7 separate regions of the Homo sapiens genome follow, and all the other regions are linked to region 7. Evidence: fine-mapped expression QTL. A gene starts in region 7. Each other region holds a variant in brackets. All regions are shown on one strand. Distances are from middle to middle. Region 1 overlaps LINC02888 (long intergenic non-protein coding RNA 2888). Region 2 overlaps LINC02889 (long intergenic non-protein coding RNA 2889). Region 3 overlaps LINC02888 (long intergenic non-protein coding RNA 2888). Region 4 has its middle 120 kb from the start of LINC02889. Region 5 overlaps LINC02889 (long intergenic non-protein coding RNA 2889). Region 6 holds the start of LOC105375172 (a long non-coding RNA gene). Region 7 holds the start of LINC02889 (long intergenic non-protein coding RNA 2889).

The links. PIP is the estimated chance that this variant, and not a neighbour inherited with it, causes the effect.
Region 1: its variant is fine-mapped to the expression of LINC02889 in blood mononuclear cells (TOPMed, PIP above 0.99).
Region 2: its variant is fine-mapped to the expression of LINC02889 in tibial nerve (GTEx, PIP 0.98).
Region 3: its variant is fine-mapped to the expression of LINC02889 in tibial nerve (GTEx, PIP above 0.99).
Region 4: its variant is fine-mapped to the expression of LINC02889 in fibroblasts (GTEx, PIP 0.97).
Region 5: its variant is fine-mapped to the expression of LINC02889 in unexposed skin (GTEx, PIP above 0.99). The same link has a PIP of 0.9 or more in sun-exposed skin.
Region 6: its variant is fine-mapped to the expression of LINC02889 in sun-exposed skin (GTEx, PIP above 0.99). The same link has a PIP of 0.9 or more in lung, pancreas and visceral fat.

The regions. Positions count from the first base shown.
Region 1 is chr7:17,399,713-17,403,781 of GRCh38, forward strand. The region is part of intron 1 of LINC02888 (long intergenic non-protein coding RNA 2888); the gene reads left to right. Among named protein-coding and RNA genes, the nearest start is that of LINC02888, 27 kb to the left of the region's middle. The variant C/A (reference allele first, on the strand shown) is at 2,392.
Region 2 is chr7:17,471,181-17,475,249 of GRCh38, forward strand. The region is part of intron 2 of LINC02889 (long intergenic non-protein coding RNA 2889); the gene reads right to left. Among named protein-coding and RNA genes, the nearest start is that of LINC02889, 86 kb to the right of the region's middle. The variant G/C (reference allele first, on the strand shown) is at 1,772.
Region 3 is chr7:17,451,213-17,455,281 of GRCh38, forward strand. All of the region lies in intron 2 of LINC02888 (long intergenic non-protein coding RNA 2888), which reads left to right. The region is part of intron 4 of LOC105375172 (a long non-coding RNA gene); the gene reads right to left. Among named protein-coding and RNA genes, the nearest start is that of LINC02888, 78 kb to the left of the region's middle. The variant C/T (reference allele first, on the strand shown) is at 2,124.
Region 4 is chr7:17,678,762-17,682,830 of GRCh38, forward strand. No RefSeq gene overlaps it. Among named protein-coding and RNA genes, the nearest start is that of LINC02889, 120 kb to the left of the region's middle. The variant G/T (reference allele first, on the strand shown) is at 1,571.
Region 5 is chr7:17,496,109-17,500,177 of GRCh38, forward strand. All of the region lies in intron 1 of LINC02889 (long intergenic non-protein coding RNA 2889), which reads right to left. Among named protein-coding and RNA genes, the nearest start is that of LINC02889, 61 kb to the right of the region's middle. The variant G/C (reference allele first, on the strand shown) is at 2,464.
Region 6 is chr7:17,461,381-17,465,449 of GRCh38, forward strand. The region is part of intron 2 of LINC02888 (long intergenic non-protein coding RNA 2888); the gene reads left to right. It overlaps LINC02889 (long intergenic non-protein coding RNA 2889), which reads right to left. Exons shown (of 4, transcript NR_110013.1): 3 at 3,790-3,846; 4 at 2,065-2,162. LOC105375172 (a long non-coding RNA gene) reads right to left here and starts at 1,758. Exons shown (of 6, transcript XR_001745108.1): 1 at 1,718-1,758. The variant T/C (reference allele first, on the strand shown) is at 1,586.
Region 7 is chr7:17,557,296-17,561,364 of GRCh38, forward strand. LINC02889 (long intergenic non-protein coding RNA 2889) reads right to left here and starts at 1,614. Exons shown (of 4, transcript NR_110013.1): 1 at 1,457-1,614.

The DNA.
Region 1 (4,069 bases), 160 kb before region 7:
TGGGGAGGGCAGAGTAGAAGTTGGAGAGTGTGTGTGTGTGCACATGTGTGTATGTATATATGTATGCATTCACGAATGGAAAGAAAACTAGTTACTTTGAAATCTAAAAAAAAAAGGAAACACCCTTTTTTTTCCCCACATATTCGTTCATTTTCTTAGCCCCCTGGAAGAACATATTGTTTTCAAAATCTACCTGCAGGAATCCAAAAGCCAAATTTTGAAGCTGCAAAAAGAGAAACTGAAAAATAGAACTCCTTCTGTCTCTTTGAACCATTTCCTTGTATCTTGAGGGTAACTGATACACATTTCACAACACGTGACTTTCAAAGATGATGAATGACAGGGAGGCTCGGTGTCAGACTCCAGATTGTCTTCTGGATCTCTTAGATTTGGGAAGAGATGAGAATAAGCAAACCTTTTAACATAAAATCATCCTATTTAATTAGAAGGGTGTATGGAATAGTCTTAAGGTAAAAGGAAACATTTTCAACTTCTAATTCCTTTCTGGACATATCCTTTTAGGAGGAAGTTCTAGTGATGAGATCAAAGTATCACTTTTCCCCCAGAGGACAGTAATATCACTTTCCCTGTGAAAAACTAGTCCAGTCCATTTAAAGACAGGATTTTAGGATATATTATTCATGACTGTGCTTTTAAAAACCTAAGTGTGAGTTTTATAACTCTAAATTCAAAATTGTCTCTATGGTTTCATTTTTAGGAGTTCTGCACATAAGCTGAGCAGATCCTTTGAGTCAAAGCCTAAAATCTTAGACTTAGAGGTCAGGCATCTTCCATTTGAACCCTGGCATAGGCACGTATTTGCTGTAGGACTGGCCAGACTGTCAAATCTGTGTCTCAGTGTCCTCAGTCTTTAAATGGGGATAAAAATAGCACCAGCCTCAGATTGTAGAAGGATTAATCAAATTACCTCATGCATAACACTTAGCACAATTCCTTCTACATTATAATCACTTAATAATAAATACGAGTATAATAACAACGAAAGTAACAAATTATGTTGAAATAAATTATTTAACTCAGTACAGGCAGGGCCTAAAATGTTGACGTGACTTTCAAGTGTCTTGAGTTCTTAAGGAGAATGTAATCCCACTGCGATGGGACTGAGCCATAAACAGGCAGAGCTTTTGCTACTCCTTTAGAGCCCACCTCAGTATCCTACAGCAATCGAAGAGACAGTACAATACCCACAAACAGCAACTGAAAGCAATTTAAATCTCTAATGAGGTGTCCTGAAAAATTCTAGAGGAACATTCTACTTCTGATGCAGAGAAATACTTCCTAAAATCTTCTTTCCCTGAGACTCCTATAATTGTCTCACCAGAAAAGGAGTTGCCTTCCCTTTGCTCAGTTTGACTCAAGCTCACTCTTAGTGCAGCCCACATTGGCTTCTGTCCTCTTTCTCTTTGCACAGAAGCAGCTCTTCTGTTTATTTACTGACCCTCTGCCCTTTCCAGTCCAAAGCAATCAAGTCACAGTGGACTAATTTGAAGTCTTTTTCTCCCTTTCATCTATTATGTAACATCTACACAACAAAATTTGAGAAACATAGAAATCAGAGCTTGAACCTGGATGCCTAAACCAACATCCATCTCAGCAGGTAGAGTAGATGGTGAGATTGTGATGACCATATGTTTTTTCCTGAAGCATACGTACTACTATTTAAAGCATGGGTCATTTTCTCCTAAGACAGAACTTAACAAAACATGAGCCTTTAAATAAAGTATCAATGTATGTATAAATGAAGTCATCTCACTAGCATCATTCAGTTTGAAGAATACATTCAATGATCCAGAGCCAATATTAAATCTATAATATGAAATGGGCAGAAAAAAAATAAGACTCCAAATTATCACCTTCCCAGAAACCAACCTCTCTCTCACCAACTGCTCAGAAAAGAAGAAAGCAAATATAAAAGAAATATGACCATTTTGTTATTTTGCTCTTACATGGAATTGAAATTAAGCTATATGGAAAATTCACTAAATTCTACCGATCTATCTTTTTAAAAGGGAAATGTTAAGCAGTTCTGAAAGAGTGCACCCAGCTTCCTTTCCAAAGGATACTGCTAATGGAGTTGAACACACCCTTCCTGTCACCCCAGGTGCTAAATATGTGGAAGTTGGGAATATCTAAATGCTTGGAGATCCTGAAGATACTCCCTGAGGTGGCTATAAAAAGACTACGCTTGGCTTCTGAGAATGTAGTGGCAGACACTTTCACTTTATTTTATTTTACTTTATTTTATCATGGGAGGAAGTTTTATTGAGTCACCATCCCCCTACACCTCAACTTCTCTTTTTTAAAAATATGTGTAAGTTTTTTCTACTTCTGTCTCTCAGGAACAGGTTTTTGGTGGTTCAGAAATTTCTC[C/A]CACTTTTACCTGACTGTGGGCAACCTCAGCAACAGAGGCTCCTGGAAATATCCTCCACCTATTTTTCTCAGATGTGAGAACGGTTGACTGGAGTTATGAGGGGGAAGTGGCTGGTGCAGAAAGTTGCCAAAAGGGTGATGGAAAGTTCTTTACTGATGAAAAAAGAAAAGAATAATAATTCATATTTATCTTTTGACCAAGACAAGATAGGAACAGAGGTGCCTTTGCTTGCTTTCACCTCAAGCAGGAAGTGAGAGTCCTATTAGCCTCTGGGTTCTGGGAAGTCAACGATTTGGGGTTATTTTTCTTCCCGCCCATTTCTTTACCTTACTCATAGGTTTAATATTGACCTCTGTCTTTATCACTGAATCTGTTTTTCAAATTGAGCAATTCTCAATTTGTCAGATGATTTATTTTTTACATATACATGAATGTTTTGTTGAAACAAGACTTTCAGCGGTATCAGTCATGGGGGAGCTTAGCTGTGAACCCGGAGGTGAGAGTAAAGTCTTAGAACAAAGAGGAATTCGAAATTACGGAACATTTTTAACTTCTTTACTCAGTGGTAAAGAATGGAACATCTTTTACGTCAAACTACTGAAGTTGTGGGCAAAATTACAAGCGATGATTATGCAGGATAGGTTAGTTTTTGGCCATTTTAGGCTTTTCTTGATTTTATGGAGTAGTCTGAAAGGAGTGAGCTGGTGAGAGAATTTACTAGGTGCTGAAGCAATGAGAACTGACAGCTGATATACAGGGGAAGAGCTCCGTTTCAGTCACATTGAATTTGAGGTGCCTTTAAGAGGAGGTAATCAGGAAGAATTTGCAACAGTTCTTTAAACCCCGGTGGATATCAGAGCTAATCATGTATCCGTGGGAGTTGTCAGGGTAAATCTGATGACTGATGCCAAGAACCTCACATAAGGAGGTCAGGTGGCATGAGAAGAGATGATGAGTGAGAACACAAGCTGAGAAAGAACAGTATTTAGAGGATGGACTGAAGGACAAGTGGGGGAGTTTGAAAATGCGGAGCTGTAGAGGTAAAGGACACTGAGTATATCTGCTCTGGTCCTTTGGGGACTTTCCACAGCACTAGCTTCACCTTGGTTGCTTGCCAACTGCTGAGACAGTAAGTCCAGATTTTAGTATTTGACCCACGCTGCCTTCTCCAGATCATGCTCCTTGATATTACCTCTGAATTTGCTGAAAGAAAAACATTTCCACTCAAATATCACTTGAACATGATTTATGAGTAAAATGAATAATATTTTACTATAAAACATACAGAGGTGAGTCTCATAACGATATTCAGGGTGGCCCCAAGCTATCTTCTTTTTTTTTATTTTTAAAGTTTTCAAAATATTTTCAGGCCAAGTGTGGTGGCTCATGCCTGTAATCCCAACACTTTGGGAGACTGAGGCAAGAAGATCACTTCAACTCAGGAATTTGAGACCAGTCTGGGCAACATAGCGAGACTTCATCTCCACTTAAAAAAAAAAAAAAAAAAAAAAAACTCAAATGTGGTGGCGCACGCCTTTGGTCCCAGCTACTTGGGAGCGCTGAGGTGGGAAATCTCTTGAGCCTGGGAAATAACGGCTACAGTGAGCTTTGATCGTGCCATTGCACTCTAGCCTGGGTGGCACAGTGAGACCCTGTTTCAAAAAAAGTGAATATATT
Region 2 (4,069 bases), 86 kb before region 7:
AAAACTCAATAGTCAAAAAATTAAAAATCCAATTAGAAAATGGGCAAAAATCATGAAGAATAATTTTGCTGCAGATGGTGTACAGATGACAAATAAGCATCTGGAAAGATGCTCAACATCATTAACCGTTAGGGAAATCCAAATTAATACCACAGTATAATTACAAAGCTCTCAGAATGGCTAAAATAAAAAATAGTTGACTACACCAAATGCTGGTGAGAATGTGGAAAAATTGGATCACTCATATGTTTCTGGTGGTAAGATAAAATAGCCTGGACACTGTGGAAAACTGTTTTGCAGTTTCTTAAAAAGCTAAGCATGCAAACACCATACAACTGCACTCCTGGGCATTTGTCCCAGAAAAATTAAAATATTCACAAAGAAACATGTACATGAATGTTTATAGCAGTTTCATTCATAATAGCCACATACAGAAAAAAAACCATGTGTTTCTTAATGGGTGAATAAACCATGGTACATCTATACCTTGGAATACTACTTGTCAATAAAAAACAAACAATTGCTAAATAAAACAACCTGAGAAAATCTCCAGAGAACTATACTGAGTGAAGGAAGAAAAATCCCCAAAGATTACACACTGTATGTCATTTATATAACATTCTTGAAATGACACAATCACAGAAATAGAGAATACTGGTCACTAGGCATTAAGGAAGGTGTGGAAGGATGTAGTGATGGGAGGAAATGTGTATGGCTGTAACAGGGCAACAGAGGCATCATTGTGATGATGGAAGTGTTCTGTATCTTGTGTTTTTGAATGTCATTATCCTGGTTGTGATATTGTACTTAGTAGTTTTGCAAGATATTACCACTGAAGAAAACTAGTTAAGGGTACACAGGATTTTTCTGTATTATTTCTTATAAGTGCATGGGAATCTACATTTATCTCAACATAAGTTTCATTTTAAGAATTATATATTTTCTGAATCTTTAATAATGTGTCAACTAGAATTTAACTGGGTATATTTTTATGATAGAAATCTACCTTACCATGCCCTTTGTCACTTGAGTAATCATATATTACATGACTCAAAGGCACAGAAATCCAGTAAGTAAAGAAAAAAGGTGTCTATTTATCTGGAGACAGGGTCTCACTCTGTTGCCCCAGCTGGAGTGCAGTGGTGCTATCATAGCTCACTGCAGCCTCAATCACCTGGGCTCGATCTCCTCCTGCCTCAGCCTCCCCAGTAGCTGGGACTACAGGTGCCACCACATCCAGCTAATTTTTTATTTTCAGTAGAAATTAGGTCTCACTCTGTTGCTCAGGCAGGTCTCAAACTCCTGAGCTCAAGCAATCCTCCTGCTTCAGCTTCTGAAGTGCCAGGATTACAAGTGTGAACCACTGTGCCCAGTCATGGTTTTTTCTGTTGTCGTTGGGTTTTTTTGGTTGTTGTTTTGTTTTTGTTTTTAAGACTTGCACTGTCACCCAGGCTGGAGTACAGTAGCGTGATCCTGAGACACTGCAACCTTTGCCTCCCAGGTTCAAGTGATTCTTGTGCCTTGCCACCTGAGTAGCTGGGACCACAGCTGTGTGCCACCACGCCAGGCTAATTTTTGTACTTTTAGTAGAGATGGGGTTTTACCATGCTGGCTAGGCTGGTCTTGAACTCCTGCCAGCCTCATTTTAAAACAAATTTTCTAACCAAAAATATACTCACAGGTTGAATTCAATGGCCCAGAAAAAAAGTGAAAGTATAATTGCCTTTATAATACAGTGCAATAGACCATAGAATATTTAAATCTTTAAATG[G/C]TTTGGCATTTCCATTGAATTGTTTATATTCTATGCAGACTTGTATTAGTGTTAATCCATTAGCAAACACTAAAATTATATAAGTGCTATTAATTTTATTAGGAAAGAAAGAAGTGTACTTCTTTCTTCTGATATGAATCATGGTAGCGCTTGGATGAACATTAGAGCCTATCCAGCACAATTTTTTCACCTTAAGAGGAAATGGAAGTAGTTGAAATTTAAATGTTGCATCAAAGATGATACAGCTAATATCCAGCACACAAAGCCTCCTACATTGATTCTTAGATATACTTAGAAGTCACAAATGCAAAAGCCTTTTACTATTGTTACAAAACACAGCAAGGAGATATTTATATTCTGTATCGTGTAAAGTCATCCTGGAGTTGGGGATCCAGCCTGGAATTGCTGGGCATCAGGGACAGTGAAGTTGTGCAAGCATGTACATTGTCTAACGCATGCTCGAAGTTATATTTATCTTCAGGACATCCGATTTGACTCACGTTCATTGGTCCTATATTTTTATCGGTTTTAATTAACTATGTCCTTTAGCAATCCTTACCTCTATCTTTCCCTTTTGCATGTGTCAGGGTAATCTCAAGTATAAGTCACCCAGAGAGGAAGAAAATATTTTTTGTTTTATCTTATGTTTGTGGCTACTAATAGCAGTATTAAAAATTAAAGTACAACAAAATATATAAGATTACAGAATCCTAGGAAAATAAAATAGGAATGTGAAAACAGATCTAATGAGGTATTAAACCTCTAGCAGAGAGCCCCCAATCTCTTATCATGTTTCTTTAAGTCATTAGAATTGTCCTGCAGGCTAAAAAGAGCTTCGTTCTGATGATGGCCCCAAATGCTTTTTTCTCCCAATGATGTCAACTTGCAAAGTTTGGCACGTTCTCTTACAACATTCTAATGTCCATTAATGACCTCTTAATGCTAATTGGTACACATTATACCATCTGTAAATTTTAACACATCATGTTATTTTCAACAATACTTGTATCTTCATCCTATTCTGGTATCAGATAAAGCCAACCAGGCAAAGGAAGCCATCTTAAAGCAACACTGGTGTGATTTTGCTCAGTCTGAGCAAGAGATTCTTTGCTGAAAAAAACTACACCTAGATGGGTCGTTTAATTCAACTTTGTGAAGACACTAAAGGATTGATAATGGCAAAGCAGGTTACACAAAGTTTACTGCCTATTTGATTTAAACAATTATTTAGGTGTAGATAAGAAAATACAACTTACAATGGGTTTGTGGGATATAGTTTAGAATTTGCTCTAAAGAATCTGGGATGACTATAACCAGGGCCTTGGTTCCAGTCTAGCCTGGAGTCCCTTCCTTGTGTCATCCAAGTTCACAATTTGTCTTTGTGTGTTTGGTGCAGCTTCAGTCACAGTTGGGGATAAATTGGGATTCAATGTTCACATTCTGAATATGGGTCCTTGTTATATACAAAAATGTTTCTAAATCTGTTATTGGTAACACAGTAAATGAATTGGATTAGGAGGTCATTATTAACAGGTCTGACATCTGTGGGCCTGTCTAGCAGACAGGATGCAAACAGACAACAGAGAGCCTCAAGGAAACAACAAACAAAAATCAACATGAAACAAAAATATCTGGCCATAAAGATGCAGAAGATGAAGACTTTCGGAGTAGACTTGTAAATTGGAGCGAACAGTGGGTCCAGGCACAGTGGGAGCCCCACCCACACCCCGTAACAGTCCTTCTAACCTTCCCCATCCAACATTCTTGCCTACCCTGACAGGGAAAGGACTGCAGTTAAGGGTCCAGTCCTACTGTGGGATTTCTCCTGGGAGCGCGCTGGTCATGAGAAGTGAATAGAGTTTCTCTTCATTCCCCACGAAGAGAGAAGAGCCCCAGGGGTCGGTGAATCTGAAGGATCAGCTGCAGCAGTCGGAGGAGAAGGTAGAGAAGGGCGAGGCTGACCTACACCTAGACAGAGGTGCCCAGCTCTTATGCGAGCAGCAACAGGGACCTAGAGCCAGCCTGACGCTCACCCCAATGCACACACACCAATCACCTGCGGAGGCTTTCTCCTGGATTTCCTCCTAATCCAAGATGCAAGGCTCAAATGTTAAAATATTAGGTATTGCTCCAAAGTTGTCTCACTGCTTAGAAATGCCTGAGACATCCTGCAGGGGGCCGACCTCCTCTCTCATCGGTGCTCTCAGCCCCTCTGCTCTCTCCTTCCGGTTGGTGCTCTTTGAGCAGCTAACTCCACTTTCTGATTATCCTGAAGTGAATTCCTAGTTGGAATCCAGG
Region 3 (4,069 bases), 110 kb before region 7:
TAGAGAACATTTAGGGAGTAAAGAGTACGTGTTAAAATTTCTTTGAAATGCTTATCTATGACTAGAAGCATTGCTTTCTTCTACTCTATACAGATAGTAAATTTAAAGGCACATTTGGGGACAGGATTGTGGGTTTTCTCAAATAACCTTCTTAAATAGGTAGAGAAAGCACCTCTAGTCTTGGTTTTTTAGAGAAATTTTTAATATTATGTTCAATTTTTTAAGGCAAATAAAGTAAGCTGGGATATGATTTTTATTTATCAAGGTAATTATTTTCCCTAAAGTTTAAAGAAAACTTGAAGGAACAAATAGGTGTAGCTGGAGCAAGTTTATTGAGGTATAGATACACCACACCACTAATTTCATAGTGTAGACAGTCCTCTCAGAATGGTATCAAGAGTTCTTTGAAAGGGCAATACAGTTTCCGAAAGCCCTACAGGAAGACCTGGGTAGTGACAATAGTACCATCTCTTCTGGAAACCTCACTCTGAAATGAATTATACTCAGGGCAAAAAGCATTCTTCTGTATTTGTAGGTAGCCTAAAATGTACATCACAGCTGCCTGGGCTAATTTTATAGGGCTCGTGGAGGCTCCTACATTTGCTATTCACAATGGCAAGCTGAGCTCAATATTTGAACAAAAAAAGTTAAATTTACCAACTGTAGGATTTATATTCTCAGAACAAAAAAATAAATGAAACCTTTAAGGGAGCTTAGAAAGTACAACCATAAAGAAATAGTCATGAGTCATTTCTTCAGTTAAACCAGCATCAGTACTCAAGTATGATTACTATATTAGAAAAATCATCTTTAAACACAAAGAAAACTTCTGCTTGTGTATATTCATGATCACCAATAAAAAGGTTCTACCAAAGGGCCAGTCACCCAGGTGTTCATGTACATACAACAGCATATCATGATGGACACTAGAAGCCTCGCCCTACAGTCTCTGCTCTTAGGTTCCACCTCTGACCCTCACTTGTTGGGCTTATCTTCGGCAAATCTTTAGCCTCTCTCTCCCTAAACTGCATCATCTGAAAAATAGAGATGACAATAGTACTTGGCTCACTGAGTTGTTATGAAAATTAAGTTAGTACATGTAAAACCCTTTTCTGGCACATGGTAAGTGCATGTAACACTGTTCTTTTTCTTATTCAATGTGTATATACCAAGGGAAAGGTTTAAATAAAAACATTAAGTTAAAATAATTTATTCAAAAGCCATGCCACTGTTAAATTAATACAGTCAAAACTACAAATAAAAAAAGAACATGCAAAATATTTTATAATATTGTATAAAGGCTTATATGTGTAAGCTTAAAAACCCTTCATTTATGAATCAATTTGTGCATAAAAATTGTATACATGCAGAGACTTGGGCCAGAATGGATATTGTTGAATTAATTTCAAAAATACGTTTTACAGCTTTTCCAAAACTCTTTAATGAAAAGTCAGCAAGAAGATAATGAGAAAGGACCAAACAGATGTTGGCTTCTGCTGAAATTTGCCAAACTTTTACAGCATCATTATGATAGCTTTCCGTTTAGGTCACCACAGTTTAAAAGTAAGTGGGACATTTGGATCTAGAAGAGAGCAGTGATGATTAAAGAGTTGGAAACCCAGGCTTAAGAGGAAGGGACCATGGAAATGATGTTGGTTGGCCAAAAGAGGAGAAGGCTGTGGGTGCCTTAATTACAGTCTCAGTATATATATAATACACCATGTAAATGAACAGATGTTGTTCTGCAATGAAAATAGAACAAGATGGGAGCACTGTGGCTCTGATTTGAGAACCATCTTTGTCTATAAAGAGTTGTTGAATAACTAAACCTCTGTTCTCTCAACCAATATCTATTCATTTCCTCTATTTTTATACCATATTAAGTGCTAACGGTTGATAATTCACATATTTAGACATATTGCATGGAATATGCTCTATAATTGTATTGCAGGAGACTTGGTGACCTATACGCATTAGAGCATGGGAAAGACAGGAAACTAGGTTGGTGCAGTGACACATTTTGGATTCCCACTTCCGTCTCACAAGGATGCATGAGTATCCTGAGACCACCACAGAAGATAGCTAGGTGGGAGTCTGCTTGTTGATACATCAACCAAAAGGAC[C/T]GCCCTGGGGGCAAGTAGAGTGCTTCTTCCAGCTCAAGGAATTATGCGGTGAGCAGGCTTTCCTTGCAGGCCCACCTAGCTCCCCCAGGGAGGACATTCCAATAACCAGTTTTGGATTACCCCAAAAGACATCTATCTATCTATCTATTTAAATGGTCTTTCCTGTAAATAACACTTCACTTCTGATACCAAATGTGTAGGGTTTATTTCCAGTTCCTAGCAGACACCAACTTGGTGTCCTAAAATGCAATTAAATTCTAACACTATCTATCAGAAATTAGATCCCACAAGATTGTCCACACTTCACATGCCAATAGCAAGTCCCAGCCTCCTGTACTTCTGACTGACCAGCTATACACTGGGAGTTTCCATAACTCTCATCTCAGTTTCAGTAATTTGCTAGAATAGCTTACAGAACTCAACATTTACTCAATTTACCAGTCTATTAAAAATAGTATTTTGTTGAGAATGTTTGCCTCTGTGTTCATCAGGGATATTGGTCTGTAGTTTTCATTTTTTATGTCCTTTCCTGGTTTTGGTATTAGGGTAAAACTGGCTTCATAGAATGACTTAGGGAGGATTCCCTCTTTATCTTTTGGAAATTGGTACCAATTCTTCTTTGAATGTCTGGTAGAATTTAGCTGTAAATCTGTCTTTTTTGGTTGGCAATTTTTAAATTACCATTTCAATCTTGCTGCTTGTTATTGGTCTGTTCAGAGTTTCTATTTCTTTCTGGTTTAATCTAGGAGGGTTGTATATTTCTAGGAATTTAACCAACTCCTCTAGGTGTTCACAGTAGCCTTGAATGATCTTTTGCATTTCTTGGTATCAGTGATAATGTCTCCCATTTCTAATTGAGCTTATTTGGAACTTCGTTCTTTTCTTGGTTAATCTCACTAATGGCCTATCAATTTTGTTTATCTTCAAAGAACAAGCTTTTTCATTCATTTAGTTCTGTTCTGATCTTTCTTTGTTATTTCTTCTGCTGAGTTTGGGTTTGTTCTTGTTTCTCTAATTCCTTGAGGTATGTGACCTTAGATTGTCTGGGCATAAAGGGTATCCAAATTAGTAAAGAGGAAGTCAAACTAGCACTGTTTGCTGATGATACGACCATATATGTAGAAAACCCTAAAGACCCCTCCAAAAAGCTCCCAGAACTGATAAATGAATTTAGGAAAGTTTCCAGATACAAAATCAATGTACACAATCAGTAGCAATGCTATATACCAACAATGACCAAGCTGAGAATCAGATCAAGAACTCAACTCCTTTTATAATAGCTGCAAAACAAATAAAATACTTAAGAATACACCTAAGCAAGGAGATGAAGGACCTCTATAAGGAAAACTACAAAACACTGCTGAAAGAAATCACAGATGACACAAACAAGTGGAAACACATCCCATGCTCATGGATGGGTAGAATCAATATTGTGAAAGTGACCATACTTCCAAAAGCAATCTACAAATTTAATGCAATTCCCATCAAAAAACCACCATCATTCTTCACAGAACTAGAAAAAAAAGCTAAAATTCATGTGGAACCAAAAAAGAGCCCATATAGCCAAAGAAAGACTAAGCAAAAAGAGCAAATCTGAAGGTAGCACATTACCTGACTTCAAACTATACTATAAGGCTATAGTCACCAAAACAACATGGTACTCGTAAAAAATAGGCACATAGATCAATGGAACAGAATAGAGAACCCAGAAATAAAGCCAAATACTTACAGCCAACTGATCTTTGACAAAGCAACACAAAAACAAAGTGGAGAAGGGATACTGTATTCAACAAATGGTGCTGAGTTAATTGGCAAGCCAAAGGTGGAAAAATGAAACTGGATCCTCATCTCTCACCTTAGACCTGAAACCATAAAGATTCTAGAAGATAACATGGAAAAAACCCTTCTAGACATTGTCTTAGGCAAAGACTTCATGAACAAGAACC
Region 4 (4,069 bases), 120 kb after region 7:
AGTGAAAATGCAGGTCTGATGCTCGGAAGGAAAGCGGGGCTACATCCATCAGTGCCGCATGCATCAGCCCAGTGATGAGGATAGCCGGGATGAGGGGGCTGTGGGTGATATCCTCCCCAGGGGAGTGGAAAAGAGAAGCCAAGGATGAATTCCTGAGATCTTCTACATTTAATGGAGAAGAATAAGAGTCTGAAAAGCATCTGGGGCAGTTAAAGAAAACCCAGGAGGTAGCGATACCATGAAAGCCGAGAAAACAGTTTCAAGGAAAAGGTTTGATTAACAACAGGGCCAAAACCACAGAAGAGTCAAGAGAAAGATGTCCTGTTAAACACATATATATATATATAGTTTTCTCTCTCTCTCTGTCTCCCTCCCTCTCTTCCCCCAGCAAAATACCTAATGCAAGAAGTCAAGATTGGAGAACCAAAGCATTTTTCTTCTGATCTTTAACCACAATCCCACATTATCCATCATTTCTTTAACTGTAAATTTCTATTATAGCTTCTTATCACAGTTTCTAGCCCATAGATTACTGTATTTTACAAATATATATATTTAGAAGCATATATATATGTAGAGAGAGAGAGAGAAGCAGCCTTACAAAATTAATTCTAATTATTTTCAAAATCAAAAGTCATTTCAGTTCTAGGTCAGAGCTCCCAGGATCGCCTATGAAAAGTTCTGAAGGAAAAACCTGGATAACATTTCTCTTTCCACAAGTCTCGCAAGGACATTCAGACCATCTGATTCATAACTCCCAGGAGATCAGGCTGATCCAGCACTTGTCCTTGTAAAAGCCGAAACCCTTTCCTTGGGATGCAGCAGCCTTATCACATGACCTCGGCTGGCCTAGCAGAGCAGGTGGGTGTGACATAATAAAATGCATTATGAAGGCCACCCTAGGAACTTTGGGAAGGGACTGGACTTGCCTCAAAAAGTATGCACATCCAGTTGGGGCGCAGGAGGGAGGAGGGGCCTGAGAGGGTAAATAAAGCCAGAGCTGCTAGGAGCTGAATTCCCTTTCCAGCAGCATCCTGAAGTCTTTGTTTCAGAATAAACTGGTGACAAGGAGAAAGGAGAGGAGGGGAGGGACAAGCTGGTGTCCTTTGGCCCATTACGTGCCTTTAGGTTTCCAGTGGTTCTCAGGCTTGCTACTCATTGGAATTACCTGGGGAGCTTTGAAAACCCTGGTATCCAGGGACAGGACCCAGACATTAGTATGTTTTTAAGCTTTCCAGGTGATCCCAATGTGCAACCAAATTTAGAACTTTAATACAACTGCCTAGCCTAGGATCACTCCTGGAATGTCCTGGGAGGGCATTCTCCAGACCCGGTTATCACGGACCCCTGGAGAGGGTCAATGGTCATCACAGAGTGCAGGGAAATTCCCTGACCTTGTCTCGTTAAGCAGTGCAAGCAGCAGCAGTTTCACAGGGCACATGACCCCCATGGCAGCCAAAAAGGGAATTAGCCACTTCAGCGGAGACGTTGCTTAAGGCAAAGGAATTTCCCCTTGTGCTCCTCATTTGCCCAAACAGAACACACGGTTTACTCATCCATTCTGAAGAAA[G/T]ATTTTGAGTTCTCAAGGATGTAGTCATTGTTCTATAAAGCCTTACAATTTAAAGTGTGAGCCCAAAACAGGAGTTTTGTCATCTTTGGGAAGCTTGGTGTGAATTCAGAATCTCTGGTTCTACCCTAGACCTGCCCAAAACTGTGTAAATACTGCTGGACTGGATGGAACACAGGATGTATTAGAATATTTTTCCTGTATTTAAATGTACACAAGAAAGGAAGACATGCTCATGGATTGACACATCTTGAGAAAGACTTGGGAGAAAAAGACAAAACAAATGTGTCAAAAAGAGAGAATGTAATACACAACCTTGCTTCATTTGAAACTGATTTTTGTTGTTTGTTTTTGTTTCGTTTTGTTTTTTACTTACCACCAGGAAATAGCTAAATTGAGTAAGAACATCTTAAAACTTAAGGGAGAAAAACTGAGTGATCAACCAAAACCTCAAGAGGAAATAATTAAGAATTTCTGGGGGGAAAATAGTGATAGTCTGTGAATGAGGACCCTACCGTATTAGCGCAATAATTAATGAGCCTAAAAGACACTGGTTACCATATGACTTTCCCTAAGCCTCAATTTCTTTAGGTGTAAAACAATACATTTAAATGAATAATCATTGTGGTCTCTTCTTGCTCAAAATTTTACCATTTGAAGATCCTTGACATTGAATCAAATATCCAAACCCAAATGAAAATAATTGTGCACAGTTTTAAGGATTATTTTACCACTAGGTGGCAATGTTGATTAAAAAATGTGAGAAACCAATGTAAACATCATTTTATTGTATTTTGTGGCTGACCTAAATCTGTTTTCCAAGGTTCGGGACATCAAAAAATTGAAGAATTGCACTACTATGCACTCGAGACCAAGAACTGAAACGTAGATTTGGAAAATATTCAGTAAAGGGACAACTGGAAAGGAAAGAAAAGCAGCTGCCTGAGGTTGACAGAGACAGTGAAACGCAGCAGGCCAAGCATAGAAGCTCACGGGATGAATGACCAGGGAGGAAATTCAGTAAACCTGGGTAGCCAAAGGATTCCAGATGCTGGTAATGTCCCCAAGGAGATTGCTGGCCCTTCATCCATGCTTGGTACCTTGAGAGGGCCCTAGGCTAAACACATGCCATGAGCTCTGATTGCTGGCAAGCAAATCTCATCACAATTTTTCTAATTTGTTTTATATCTGATTCCTAGCTACTATCTTCAATGTCTGGCTATTCCTATGGATTTCTGATTTTGCTGTGCTCTAGGACATAGCACTTCGGCTGTCCCTAGGAATTCATGCTTCAACTGCACCGCCTTACCTTGCTTCTACCTCCTGGACCTCACACAAACGACCCTAACTCAGGCAATGTTTGCACACCCCCTCCAGATTCCATGTCTGCTAAAGCATCGCATCTTGAAACTCCACAGAACCACTTCAAGCAAAGAATTACCAATCGTTAGGGCTGGAAGAAATTTAGAGATGTCATCATACCATTCCCTTTTCATTTTCAAAATAAAGGGAAAGAAACAGATATAATAATTACTTAATATTTAATAAGTTCTTGGCTGAAGGAGATTTATTAACTCTTATAACAAAAGTTCCAATACAAGCAGCTCCAGTTAATTCAATGGTTCAGCAACCCTATCAGGGCCCAGGTTCCCTCCACTCTCTCAACTTTGCTGTCTGCAGTGGACTGCCTAAGATGCCTTTGCATGCCAAGAAAGCTGTCTCAGCTCCAAGCACCACATCCGGACACACCAAAGTCCAAAAGAATGGGTCATTTTCCCCTTGTGCATCTCTTATTTAAAAATGAGAAAAAGCTTTCACGGAAACATACCAACAGATGTGCCTTCACAATTTATTGACCAGAACTGGGTCACCTGCCCAATCCTCCACAAGTCACTGTTGAGAGAACGGAAGGATCATAATTGGCTTTGACAAATCAGATCTGACTCATGTGGAGAAGAGGTGGACATTGGCACAAAACGGGTACTGCCAGCATGCAAGAAAAGAAAAATAAATCTTGGGTAAGTGAACCAGCACTGATTGCTGTATTGGGGTAGTGTAACTAAACACTAGGACATCACTGTGTTCAAGAAATAGGAGAGATCAGAAAAGAAGGAATGGGCACTTGCCTGTACTACCACTTTGTTGGGAGGATGAGGCGGGAGGATCCTTTGAGCCCAGGGGTTCAAGGCTACAGTGAGCTATGATTACACCACTGCTTTCCAGCCTGGGCAACAGACTGAGGCCCCATCTCTTTAAAAGGTTAAAAAGAAAAAGCAAGAAAGAAAACAGGGGACATTCAGGCAACTCAGACTCAAAGAATATTCCTTTAGCATCGGATATTAGTCCCACTATGACCTTCACTAGTCAGCTGATAGGAAGCTGATAGCTGCTGCTACTTCTCACACATCAGCATACTTTGCTCAGATGTATGCATCATTGTTCACTTGTCAAGCTGTTATGAGCAGCAGTTTTTCACAATGAACCAAATGAGGATGGAAGTTC
Region 5 (4,069 bases), 61 kb before region 7:
TTTGTTTTCCACCTGAATGAGAAGGCAAACTGAAGCATATCTGAAACTCTGCATGTAGTTGTGCTTCCTGTCCTCAGGGGAGATGGCATAAGGATAGAGATAGAGAGCTTCTTGACAGGGACAACACACAGCCTGAAAGAGACGCCTGAGAAGGTGCTGGGAGTAGTCTCCTCTATGGAATAAGGCAGGCAGCAAGGTCAACAGGTGCCACCTTACTAGGGAAGAAAATGTAGGAAGAGTGAAAGGAACTTATGAATTCAGACAATGGGTATCAGCTTACAGGAATCATTAGCCTGACAGGTAGTAGTAGGTGATTCAAAAAAATTTAAATAAATTAAAAAGTTGACAGAGGTACAAAGGAAGCAACATTTCAAACATATTTCTCGTCTCTGAGGAGGGTATTTGGAATAAATTCAATTCTCTTCATAAACTATGCTTTTCTTGCCAAAACAAAATAGATCACAGCTCTTATCCACGCAGGAATTCCTTTGGTTTGTATGTAGAAAGGTAGCTCATCCTTTCAACATTATCCAGAATTAAATGTAGCCTTTATAACCCTTGGAAATAACAATGTAACACTTCTTCATAGGTGAGTAATAAATGACTTTTTCCAAAATCAACCATCAACCACAAACACTTGGCTTGCCTAGTGTTTTAAAACTGGAGAATATTAGGACAGGCTTATAATGGCAAATATTCCAGCTCACATGCCCACACAAAACCTAACTGTGCTTTTAGGGAAAATGACCAATATGAGCTCAAGGACAGTATTTTGTTCTATTTAATACATTGCAAAAATCATCTCATATCTGTAAAATTATGTACTATTTCTCTCTCTAGCTTAATCTATATCCTGACCTATCCATGCAGGAGAACTTTCTGTTCCCATTAAAATCTTATAGAGAATATACCTTTTGAATGAAAGTGAGGTGGGGAAATAAGCTAATGACCCATGGGTTATATTTCTAAGGTCTTAGCCCAGAGATGACAGAGTACAGGAGAGGTTAGCTCCAGTTGGTATGTAACGAAGCTAGAACAAAGTAAGGCCAAACAACAAAGCCGATATGTGTATGCAGGCTGCTAAAAATCCAGTGATCAAAGCAATTTAATGCTTGGGCCCCAAGTGTTTCCTGTTGGTCCAGTGGCTGATGACACACTGTCTAATAGGATGGCAACAGGGAAAATTAGTCCTCCAAGTCTCCTTCTGTTGGGAAACAAGATTACTCTCTCTGGATTTTTCAGTTCCATCTACAGTGTGGTTCTCAAACATGCCTGTACACTGGAATCCCTTGGGGAGCTTTAGAAACTAATGATGCCTTGGCCCTAGCCCCAGAGATTCTAATGAAGCTGTTCCAGGTTCAGCCTGGGCATCAGGATTTTTAAATGTTCCACAGTTGATTCTAACAAGCTAAAGCTGAGTTGTTGATTCTGCGGCACAAAGAGACTAAGTAGTGCTTCTCAAATTCTACCCTTGTAGGTCTGAGTAGGGTCTAAGATTCTATATTTCTAACAAGCTCCCAAGTGATGCTGGTGTGGTCCAGAAACAAGGCTTTGATTAACAGGGCTCTAGATCAGCAGCCACAATGAGGTTCCTGAAGCAGCAACAATGTCACGTGGAAACCTGTTTAGAAATGCAAATTATCAAGCCCAACCCCAGATATACTCAATCAGTCATGGGGTGGGGCAGGTGGAAGAGTAGCAAACTGCATTTCAACAAGCCCTCCAGGTGATTTTGGTGCCAGCTAAAAAAACCAAGGGTCAGAGCGGTATTATTCAAAGTGTGGTTATCAGAGCAGCAGCAGTAGCATTGCCAAGGAGTTCATAAGATGAATTCAGGATTTCAGGCCCCACCCCAAACTTGCTGGATCAGAAACTGCATTTTAATGACATCCCAGGTGGTTACTATGCATATTAAAGTGTGAGAAGCCCTACAGTCTTGGCAAATTTCCTCCTCAAAACCGTTGCCCAGAATGACAGATAAAAAACCACTCATTTGAAAAAAAAAAAGCCTAACGACAACGTTAATTATAATTGTAATATCTGGTAGGTTTCTTTTTAATTACAAAAAGCCCCACATTTTTACAGTGACAAGTTTTAAAACATGGAAAAACCTCATCAAACAAATGGAAATCACATGTGATCCCACCAAGCAGCTAAAACTATTGATAACTTTATTCTTCCATCCAAAGAACTGTTTCTAAAGAGAGAATAAAAACAAGTTATTGAAAGAGACAATATTATCCTGCTCCAACAGACACTTGGCAATGTTTCAACTGAAACTTTCACCTATCAGTGTAACTTCCCAGTGGGTTCACCTAGCCCGCTGCCTAGACAGACCTGATTTATCAAGACAGTGGAATTGCAGTGGAGAAAGAGTAACTCACGCGGTGCCAGCTGTGCGGGAGACCAGAGTTTTATTATTACTCCTGTCTCCTGTAGTTAAAGATAATTTTGTGGGTAGGG[G/C]CTTGGGAAGTGAGGAGTGCTGATTGGTCAGGTTGGAGATGGAATCATAGGGGGTCTATGTGAGGTTTTCTTGCTGTTTTCTGTTCCTGGGTGGGATGGCAGAACTGGTTGAGCCAGATTACCGGTCTGGGTGGTGTCAGTTGATCCATCCAGTGTAGGGTCTGCGAAATATCTCAAGCACTGATCTTAAGTTTTATAATAGTGATGTTATCCCCAGGAGCAATTTGGAGAGGTTCAGACTTTTGCAGCCAGAGGCTGCATGACCCCTAAACTGTAATTTCTAATCTTGTAGCTAATTTGTTAGTCCTGCAAAGATAGACTGATCCCCAGGCAAGAAGGGTGGGGGGGGTGGCTTTTCAGGAAAGGACTATTATCGATTGTGTTTCAGAGTCAAACCATGAACTGACTTCCTTCCCAAAGTTAGTTCAGCCTATGCTCAGGAATGAACAAGGACAGCTTAAAGGTTAGAAGAAAGATGGAGGCAGTTAGGTCTGATTTCTTTCACTGTCATCATTTCCTGAGTTATAATTTTGCAAAGGTGGCTTCATCTTTAGCCCAATGTGACAAAAATACGAGTCTCTTGTTTAGAATAATGTTGGTTACTGAAGGAGATACCATGACATCGGTTCCTGTGGTCATCTTGGGAATAAAAAACCTCTTTGCCATGTTTGAGAATGTTGAAACCAAGTTATTTTGTTCTAAGTTAGAAGGTCAGAGCTCAGACTTAAAAATACCAGCCAGTAATGAAAAACAGAGCGGCCGCATTTAGGTTACCAGCAGTGAATAAATTCCCAGATAGTTGAAACACCGCTGTATACTGGTGACCTTTAAACGTATAATGAGTAAATAGTTTGGGGGGAAAAAAAGGAATTCACATGGATCTCAAATTGTATTCTCTTTCAATCTGTAACAGATCAGCTTTTCTGTTAGAGGTCAGATTGTTAAAATTTTGACAAATTTGGCTGCCTAGAACATCTATGGCCTTAGCTGTCAAATCAGAAGCCTAGCAAAAGAAACTGGAGCTAGACTGGTGAAAACTAAAATTTAAACTGTTGCTTTTTGATATGATTCTTGCTTTAGAAAGCTGTCAAGGTATTCAGCAAGTGTGCCAATTTTCTTAAATGAGTCTGAACTTCAAGACCCTTCCCTTACCTGGGTGAATATCTTTTGCATCAAATCCCAATGTAAGAATGAAACTACACATTGGGATAAGGAGCTGGAACAAATCATGCTGTTTCTGTACAAAGAGAAAAACATACTGGACTGGACACAGCACACAGTGATGGGAAGTAGAGTAACTTGAAAACCAGAAGATGAAGAGTTTGGAGGGGGAGTCAGGGCTGGGGGTTATAATAGAAAAGACATGTGGATGGCAATGCCTGTCAAAGAGGCACCAAGGAGAAGGGGATTGCCAAACTGTGTTAGGAAAAAGGTCACTGGATCTGTTAGAACCTGTGGAACTGGTTAATTACCTTATAATCAATATAATAAAATTACATGTGTGGCTATTTGATTATCATTACCCCATTGCAAAGAAATACAATGTTAATTTTCTTAGTTTTCCTCCTAATTTGGAGGACATGTTTGGGATGGTTTAGTTGAAAAC
Region 6 (4,069 bases), 96 kb before region 7:
TCTCTTTCTCTCCGTGTATGAAGTTTGAATCTAGTTTTACCTATTGTTTTCCTATTGACTACAACATTTTTACCATGAAAACATGGAATTTATAACAATTTGACCATGTATTTTTCCTCATATTATTTTGGGGACCAGACTGTTGCTTTGCTTCCAGGCATTGTAATTTGACATGTACTCTACAACAATCTTTAGCCCCCATTAGCTCTTAGTGAGACTATTTCCTCTAAACCTTTCCCATAGGTTTCACAACTTTCTTTTGAACGTTCTCCAAAAACTAAATCCTTACTTTGTTTAACCATATTTCCCCTTCTCTTCTATTGTGCATTTCTCTATGTTGAGAAGTCTTTGAGAAAGCAGGGAGTCCCTCTGCCAACTGATCCTATACTAGGATAGGCATGGGTGATGTAGGCCTTCTACAGGTCATTTAGAACTATGGGAGCAGGGCAGTAGGTAGAGCACAGAAGAAAGGAATTATGAAATGTCAGAGAATTAGGGGAAAAGAAGAGCAACAATTCTGATTTGTTGCCATGCAAAGACGGAGAGATTAAGATCGGAGGGGATGTTCCATATCAAGAGGATGAAGTGAAGGGATAAAGGTCCAGTTTACACAAAGAAGTTTAAAAGCCAGATGCAAAATCCCAAATCTTCATCATATACTGATAAGCCTTACCACACTAGTTGGAAAGGAGGTTCTAGACATCAACATGGGAAGAGGTGGAAAACCCCTTTGATCTTTCATAATGTAGAAACAGAATCCCAGAACAATAAAACAGACAACTAATCCTACTATTTTCTGATCTTTTGGCTCCTCTGAATCATTTTATAAACTTAGCTTCTCTGTGGGGGCCTAATCCTTGTCCCAATAGTCCACGTGGTTGAATGGCTGCCTGATCCAAATGCTTTGATCATACCGGAGTCTTGGAGTCTTTTCTACCATTTTTATAGGCACAACTTTCAGAAATACTTTCTTCAAAAGCCCTGTGCTTTGATAAACAGGTTTAAGTGCTATAATCACCAGGCATTTGAATGCAGATTAATTCATAAACCCAGATAATAGATCTTGTTCTGTCATGTTGTTTTTAGACAAAAGTTGAAAGCTTTGAAGAATGTGGAGAAACTATGAAATTTTAATAGCCTTGGGGCACAGAAACTTAACACAAAGAAAGAATCGTCATTCATTCAAAGAGTATTCATGGCCTTGGTGGAAAGATTGATGACAAATTCTGTGATTAATTACAGTTGTTGAAGAAAGTTAGAAGAAAAAAGGCACCAAGAGTTCTTGAGTTAATCAAAGACAGCAATTTGAATAAATGGTCCTAAAGTCCACAGTAATTATTTCGTCAAATGAACCACATTGTTACTTTGAATTGTAAGATTTTACCTTCATCCTGAAAAATAAAAATAAAAAATAAATGCCTTGGCTGAACATTATTGATTTGATAGGGAAAGTATCAGTTATTTTCCTACATAAAAGGGACTCATGAAATCTGAGGGTTGTGATATTTAGGTTTTCTTGCCTGAGGGAAGGTCATTTCACAGTAACCTCCAGAAAAAATGACTATATATTATGATTAGTAACTTA[T/C]CCATAAAAAGGATAATGATATCGTTTTGCTGTGTGTCCTCATCCAAATCTCATCTTGTATCTCCCATAATTCCCACGTGTTATGGGAGTGACCCAGTGGGAGATAATTGAATCATGGGGGCGGGTCTTTACCTTGCTGTTCTCCTGATAGTGAATAAGTCTCACGAGATCTGATGGTTTTAAAAATGGGAGTCTCCTTGCACAAGCTCGCTCTCTCTTTGCCTGCTGCCATCCACATAAGATGTGACTTGCTCCTCCTTGCCTTCTGCCATGATCGTGAGGCCTCCCCGGCCATGTGGAACTGTAAGTCCAAGAAATCTCTTTCTTTTGTAAATTGCCCAGTCTCAGGTATGTCTTTATCAGCAGCATGAAAACAGACTAATACAAATAACGTAACAAGAACAAGAATGAAATAATTGACATGAAGGACTCACCTGAACAATTACACCAAAAGAGCATCTTCTTCTTTCTCTAATCTACACAAAGCCCGTCCACAACAGGCCAATTCTATCAGAGACAAGGCTGATGGGAAGGTTCAGAAATAATTGCAGTTTTCCTCCTCACATTTCTATTGAATCTTTTGGAGAATAGAAAAATAAATTATTTATTACAAGGCAGGGGTTCTCAAGCCCTAGACCAGTACCTGTCCGTGGCCTGTTAGGAGCAGGGTCACATAGCAGAAGGTAAGTGGCAGGCAAGCCAGCATTACTGCCCAAGCTCCGCCTATTGTCAGATCAGTGGCAGCATTAGATTCTCATAAAAGCATGAACCCTATTGTGATCTCTGCATTCAAGTTATCTAGGTTGCGCACTCCTTATGAGAATCTAATGCCATCCCCCATCCACCCTGGTCCTTGGAAAAATTATCTGCCATGAAACCGGTCCCTGGTGCCAAAAATGTTGGGAACCGCTGTTGTAGTAAGTTTTCAATAGGTAACTTGCATTCAACAGCTTGTGGTTATAGCTTCCTGTTTGGCAGAGGAAAAGGATATCTCTATATATAGATATACATATCACAGATCTTAGAACTTTAAATATCAACTGTATTAGAACTTGACTACTGAGCTTGAGCTTGCCACCATTCTTAAAATCATCAGCTCTACTGCCATGCTGTTTTTTACATTTATATATTATAACTTCATCTTTAATAAAATATATATATTAGCTATTTTTCAATGTGGATTTTATGTGGTAAGTGTTCAGATCTAAGAATGTTATCTGTTTCCCAAGTAGCTTGTTTTTCCTGAGTGAAAATTTATGAACCCTACTTATGTTAATTAAAATTATATTTTAACCTTACTAGATCTGTGCTATGACTAGAAAATAGTTGTTAACATAAAATTTCTCCCAAAGTAAATGGATAGTTTAAAAAAAAATCCAGTAAAGTACTAAGTCATGAAAACTATATTTTCTTGACACTTTTTTCTAAGATGCATAACATGCTTTAATCTTTTATAAAATATAAACATTCTTTCATAATATATGAAGGAATTAAAACAGTGCATTTTATGCACTTGAAACCAAAAGTTCCCAATCTTCCTGCTCGTTAAAGAATGGAAATTAGACTGCTAGTTTTTCTTACTTTTTTAGCAACGTAACTAAACGTGATTTGGATATTAAGTCTCATTTTGGATAATCAAAATACATAAGCATGTGTGTGTGTGTGTGTGTGTGTGTGTGTGTGTGTGTGTATAAAATAAAACTTACAAAATATGTATGTGTGTATGTATATATTAAGCTTGTGAAGTCCTAAAAGCCTGGCAGAGTGGGAGAGACATGTAGCTCCAGTACCAGTAAAACAAACCACATGGCTAATTAAATGTGTTCTATTGATCTCTCCACTAACCGCTGAAAAATACATACAGATTTTCAGTTAATCAGCTAATAGTTTGGCATTCTGCGTGCTATATCTTTCTCACCTATTGTTGTGATTAACTCTATGATTTTAAGCTTTTATTTGTAGATTTGCACTTTACAGACTTCTAAGTCCTTGAAGCAAGCAAATAAAAAAATGTAGCTCAATGAGAACACTGCAAGTTATTGAGAACACTGCAAGTTATAAAAGTGGTCCAAGGAGTTTCACTATTTTTTCCTTGCAATGTCAGAACAGGATGAAAAGCAAATTTGAGGCTATGTTTCTTTCCCTGGAAGAACTATATATATAGTTGACAGGGACCCCCTCTCTTTTCACCCTTGCTGACTTACCACACTGTCCAACCAAGACTTGCTCTCTTTCCCAATCACTTCTTCACGAACCTCTCCCTGAAAAAGTAGAGGTGAAATGTAGGTATTAAAATTTTCCCACCATTTCAGAAATCACAACTCTTCCTAAGAGAAGGAAGGAAACATGAAAAATGGACAAAAGGCTGATCTAGATGTGCTTAATTTAGCAGTCATAGAATGGGAACTCCGTATTTGTATATTTTATATAGTTATGAATATTACATAGTATAGGATGAAAATTCAATAAATAAATGTATTTATT
Region 7 (4,069 bases):
TAACAGGACATGTTTGGCTCTAATGTGTGGGTTATGAGTCAATATATCAAATTTGACTAAAGTATTTGCTCTAAGTAGGGAGCAAGCCATTTAGCATTACAAATCCTGAACTTTTTGCAGGAAGGAGGGAAATAACTTTGATTTCTAAGCTCTCTTATTAAGATGAATCAAAGTTGATGAATAAACTTTCTGGATTGCTTAATACCTTCCAGATATCAGTATCAAGGCCTTGGCAAGGCAGGTGAAAATATTTCCATGAGCAAGAAGCAATTGAGAAGGACTTCCTCTGTGGGATAAATTCTTGGTAATTCCTGTGGGAAATTTTCCTTTATCCTAACATCTTTTTTTTTTTTTTTGCCTTGCCCAATTCTCAGTGTTTTTAAATACACAAAATACGGCTTTCTACTAAAAACTGGTAAATGAAGTTGGAAAAATACAAACACACACACACACACACACACACACACACACACACACACACGGTAGCCCTTTTATTGCAGCCATGTACGTAGCTTCGCTGAAGAGTTGACAAGATATATTGTGCAGCCACAGAGAGACACCACATCTTCCTTCCTCCCAGCACAACTTGTACAGTGATTAAATGTGATTAAAGTCTCAGGAACTTGGACACAGTCATATCTATTTTGGTACCACTGTCTTGATCCATCCCTACAGCCAGAAGGGAATCACCCTCTTTGTGTAAATGTTTGCTTTGTTGGAAATTCTCAAGCAGAAATTAATAGTATACATGCTTCAGGAGGAGTAGTAAATCAAGCATGATAAACAACTCCTAGGCAGTGTTTAGACTGGCCAAAAGTCATCTTAAGAATCGTGCACAATGATAGAATACCACGTTTGGCATCTATACACCAGAACTATCTATAAACAAAAAGCAAAATGGAGATCTGTCAATTAACCAACTAGTCTGATTAATGGGATCTGTCAGCATAGGTGGATAATAAATGACTAGAAAAGTAGCAAGTCTCCACTCATTCTATGTGGTGTAGACACAGTTAAATGAATCATGAATGTTTAGTGCTCTTTATAGCAGTTAGCGAACACACTTGGAACTTGTCTCGAAATTAGTTTTGATCTCTTGTTTGAAGTCAGATGCCAATATTCTAGACCCCTATGACATCATCTATTACAGACTCCTGGTTATCGAAGAGTTGAAACTAGTCAGATAGAATTGGCATGAAAAGAATTTTCAACAGAAAACAATCATGTTCAAGGAAGCCAAGTCTAGGATTTCAGGAGCTCAAAGTTTCAAATATTTTTATAAAAACATACATACATACACACACATACATACATTCATGTGGAGAGAGAAAATGAAAAGCAAGAAGACCTTTTCTTCCTTAGTCCAAATCCAATTTAATAATTATCCAGGGTATTCTCAGTAAAAACCAGGTATTTATGCCTCTATATGTATGTCACCAAAATGGAGCCAGCTTACCTGAAGGTCCTCTGAGGCTGTCACTTTCCTCTAGTGCTGTCCCATAAACCTGAAGGATATACAATAACAAAGGGGACAATTCCGTGGGACGAAAATCTTATTTTAAATAACTTCTCTATACTGACTTCAAGCCAAATGAAAAAACTACAGCTTTTTTGGAATTTTATTCCATTTCTGTTGTCTGATTCATAAGTGTTGTTAAATATTTACCAGGAACCTGCCAACAGTTTCTCAACATTAGTTAATCATAGGTAATGCTATTCCATTAACAACTCAATAAACTTCTTTAAAGTTGTACAAGGTAAATTTCAGTACCTTAACACTGCTAACCCATCCTTGTAGAATAAATATTTGCTTTGAGTTTCTCTATGCCAAGATTTATGGGATCAAGTAATCTAAATCTCCTTTTGTAAATAAGGTGTGCCCTCAAGAGGATGAGAGTGCAGACTCTACAGTCTTGTCTGCCTTCTCTCCACAGGTCCTTGAATAAAGCGTTCCATGTCTCCAGATAAACAGACTTGGGGCACTTCTGACCAGTATCCCAGCAGCAGAGGCTTTGGGAAATATTTTCAAGACGGTTCAAGCCTCCCTTCCACAGATTCTCTCACATCTGCCAGCCTGAAGTGGGCTGTGTTGGTTCATGTCTACCAGGACACTAAATGGCTGAAGGCCATTTTTTCTATTCTAATTATTGTTGCTTCTTTGTAACAATTTTTATAAAAGTCCAGCCTAATTTCTTTCCCAGCACACATGTATCTTCAGACACACATCTAAATCCAGGCTTTCATGATTAATCCTACTCTGAGTCAGCTGGGATAGAGCTCTGATGATGGGATATCCTACATGGTCATTAACTGCTGTTTGCACAAACACATCACTCAACGTGACTTCCACTGGATCTACCTTGTATGCAGAGTAGAAAGCTGCTTGTATGGAGTGACTTCTCTGTTGCCTGACCAACCACATGCAAAAATAACCTTTCCACTCACTGATACTGAATTCTACCAAAGAAGACAAGCCATCCAATCAACAACTCTCATAGTAAAGCACATGGCAAACATTATAACTGTATTACTGTATTATAAAACTGTATTATTAAAGTCTACTCTTACAGAATACTCGAGGAAATTAAAAAATGACAAATTCTCATTTATGTACACACCACTTATATCAGGTTCTTCTGGAGAATATATTCTGTTTGACGGAAGAGGAAGGAAGAGAGGATAAATTATGTTTATTGGAGAACTACCTAACCCAGACTTTGTACTAGGTGCTTTTTGAAAATTATCTCTTTAATTTCTGCAACCACAATAAGCCACAGATAACCCTGTCTTTGCTTCAGAGATGATTGTGCCCAGTCTCATAGGAGTTAAGCAATTTTTCCCAAGTCCTATAGCTGGTAAATAATCAGTTTAAGATTCAAGTAAATCATTTTATCAAAGCAACATTGAGGCAAGAAAGAAGAGTATGATATACAATTTTTAAAAGCCCAGACACCCACACATTTCCTGTAAGGAAAAAAATGTATTGATGTGTATGATAAAAATTAGGCCCTCAGCTCCTTGAAAAAGAATTGTTTGAGCCCCTGTAAATCTTTACCCAGTTAGTGTTCAAATAAATATTCCTGTAAAGATATCTTCAGGGTGAGAAAAGCCATAAACAAACTCCATTGTCATTTCCAGCATTTAAATCAGGACTAATCACAAGGAGCCAGTGTTAGCCCAATCCCCCTCACCTAGTTCCCCTCACTCTTTGCCAATACGCAGTTTTTAATCTGTTTCAGGAAGGAGTCCGAGGCGGTTTGGAAATACAAATTAACCTGAAACTACTTCCTAAGGCATTACCAGAAATCACGTTTTAGATGTCAAGATGACTTGCATTGTTCTAAACTTCCAGGCTGTGCCAATGGCCACAAAGGTAAATGGGGCATTGGGACAACCATGTGAAGGACTAAGTTGCAACATGAAGCAAGCACACTCTTCCGCATGAGTCACCTGAAAATGAAAAGAGAAGAATAGCTGGAAAAGATGATACTGTCTGACAACAGCATTTCAAATAAGACACAAAAAACTTGTCTGCATTTGCTTTCAGGTCATGAAATACCACATGAACTGAATGTTTGAGAACCCATTAGCTATGGATCACCCTGATTCAACAACCCAATTAATCATATTCTCAGGTCTATGGCATAATCAGTGTTTCTCAACCTACACTGCGTAATAAAATTACCTGAGGAAATTTTTGGCTTTTTGAGTGTTTTTATTTAAAAAGAAAAAAAAAATCAATGCCTGGACCCCAATACCAAAAATTTGGATTCATTGCTATAGGGTAGAGGCCAGGCACTAGTATTTTTAAAAAAGCTTTCCAGGTGATTCTAATGTGAGTCATGGTTGAGCACCACTGTTAGTTGTATGAAGTGGATTTAGAAATCTTATCCCTTAGACCCTTAGGGTTGCCAGAGCTGTCATGGCTATGAAACCTGCAAGAATTTGGGCAAGTTACTGGTCCCTGAGACTGTTTCCAAATCTCCAAAGTGAAAGCCAGAACACCTTTTAGGCACATGCTTTATCATGGAGGCCTGACGATCATGGTTTCAAAATAAATATCTGTGAA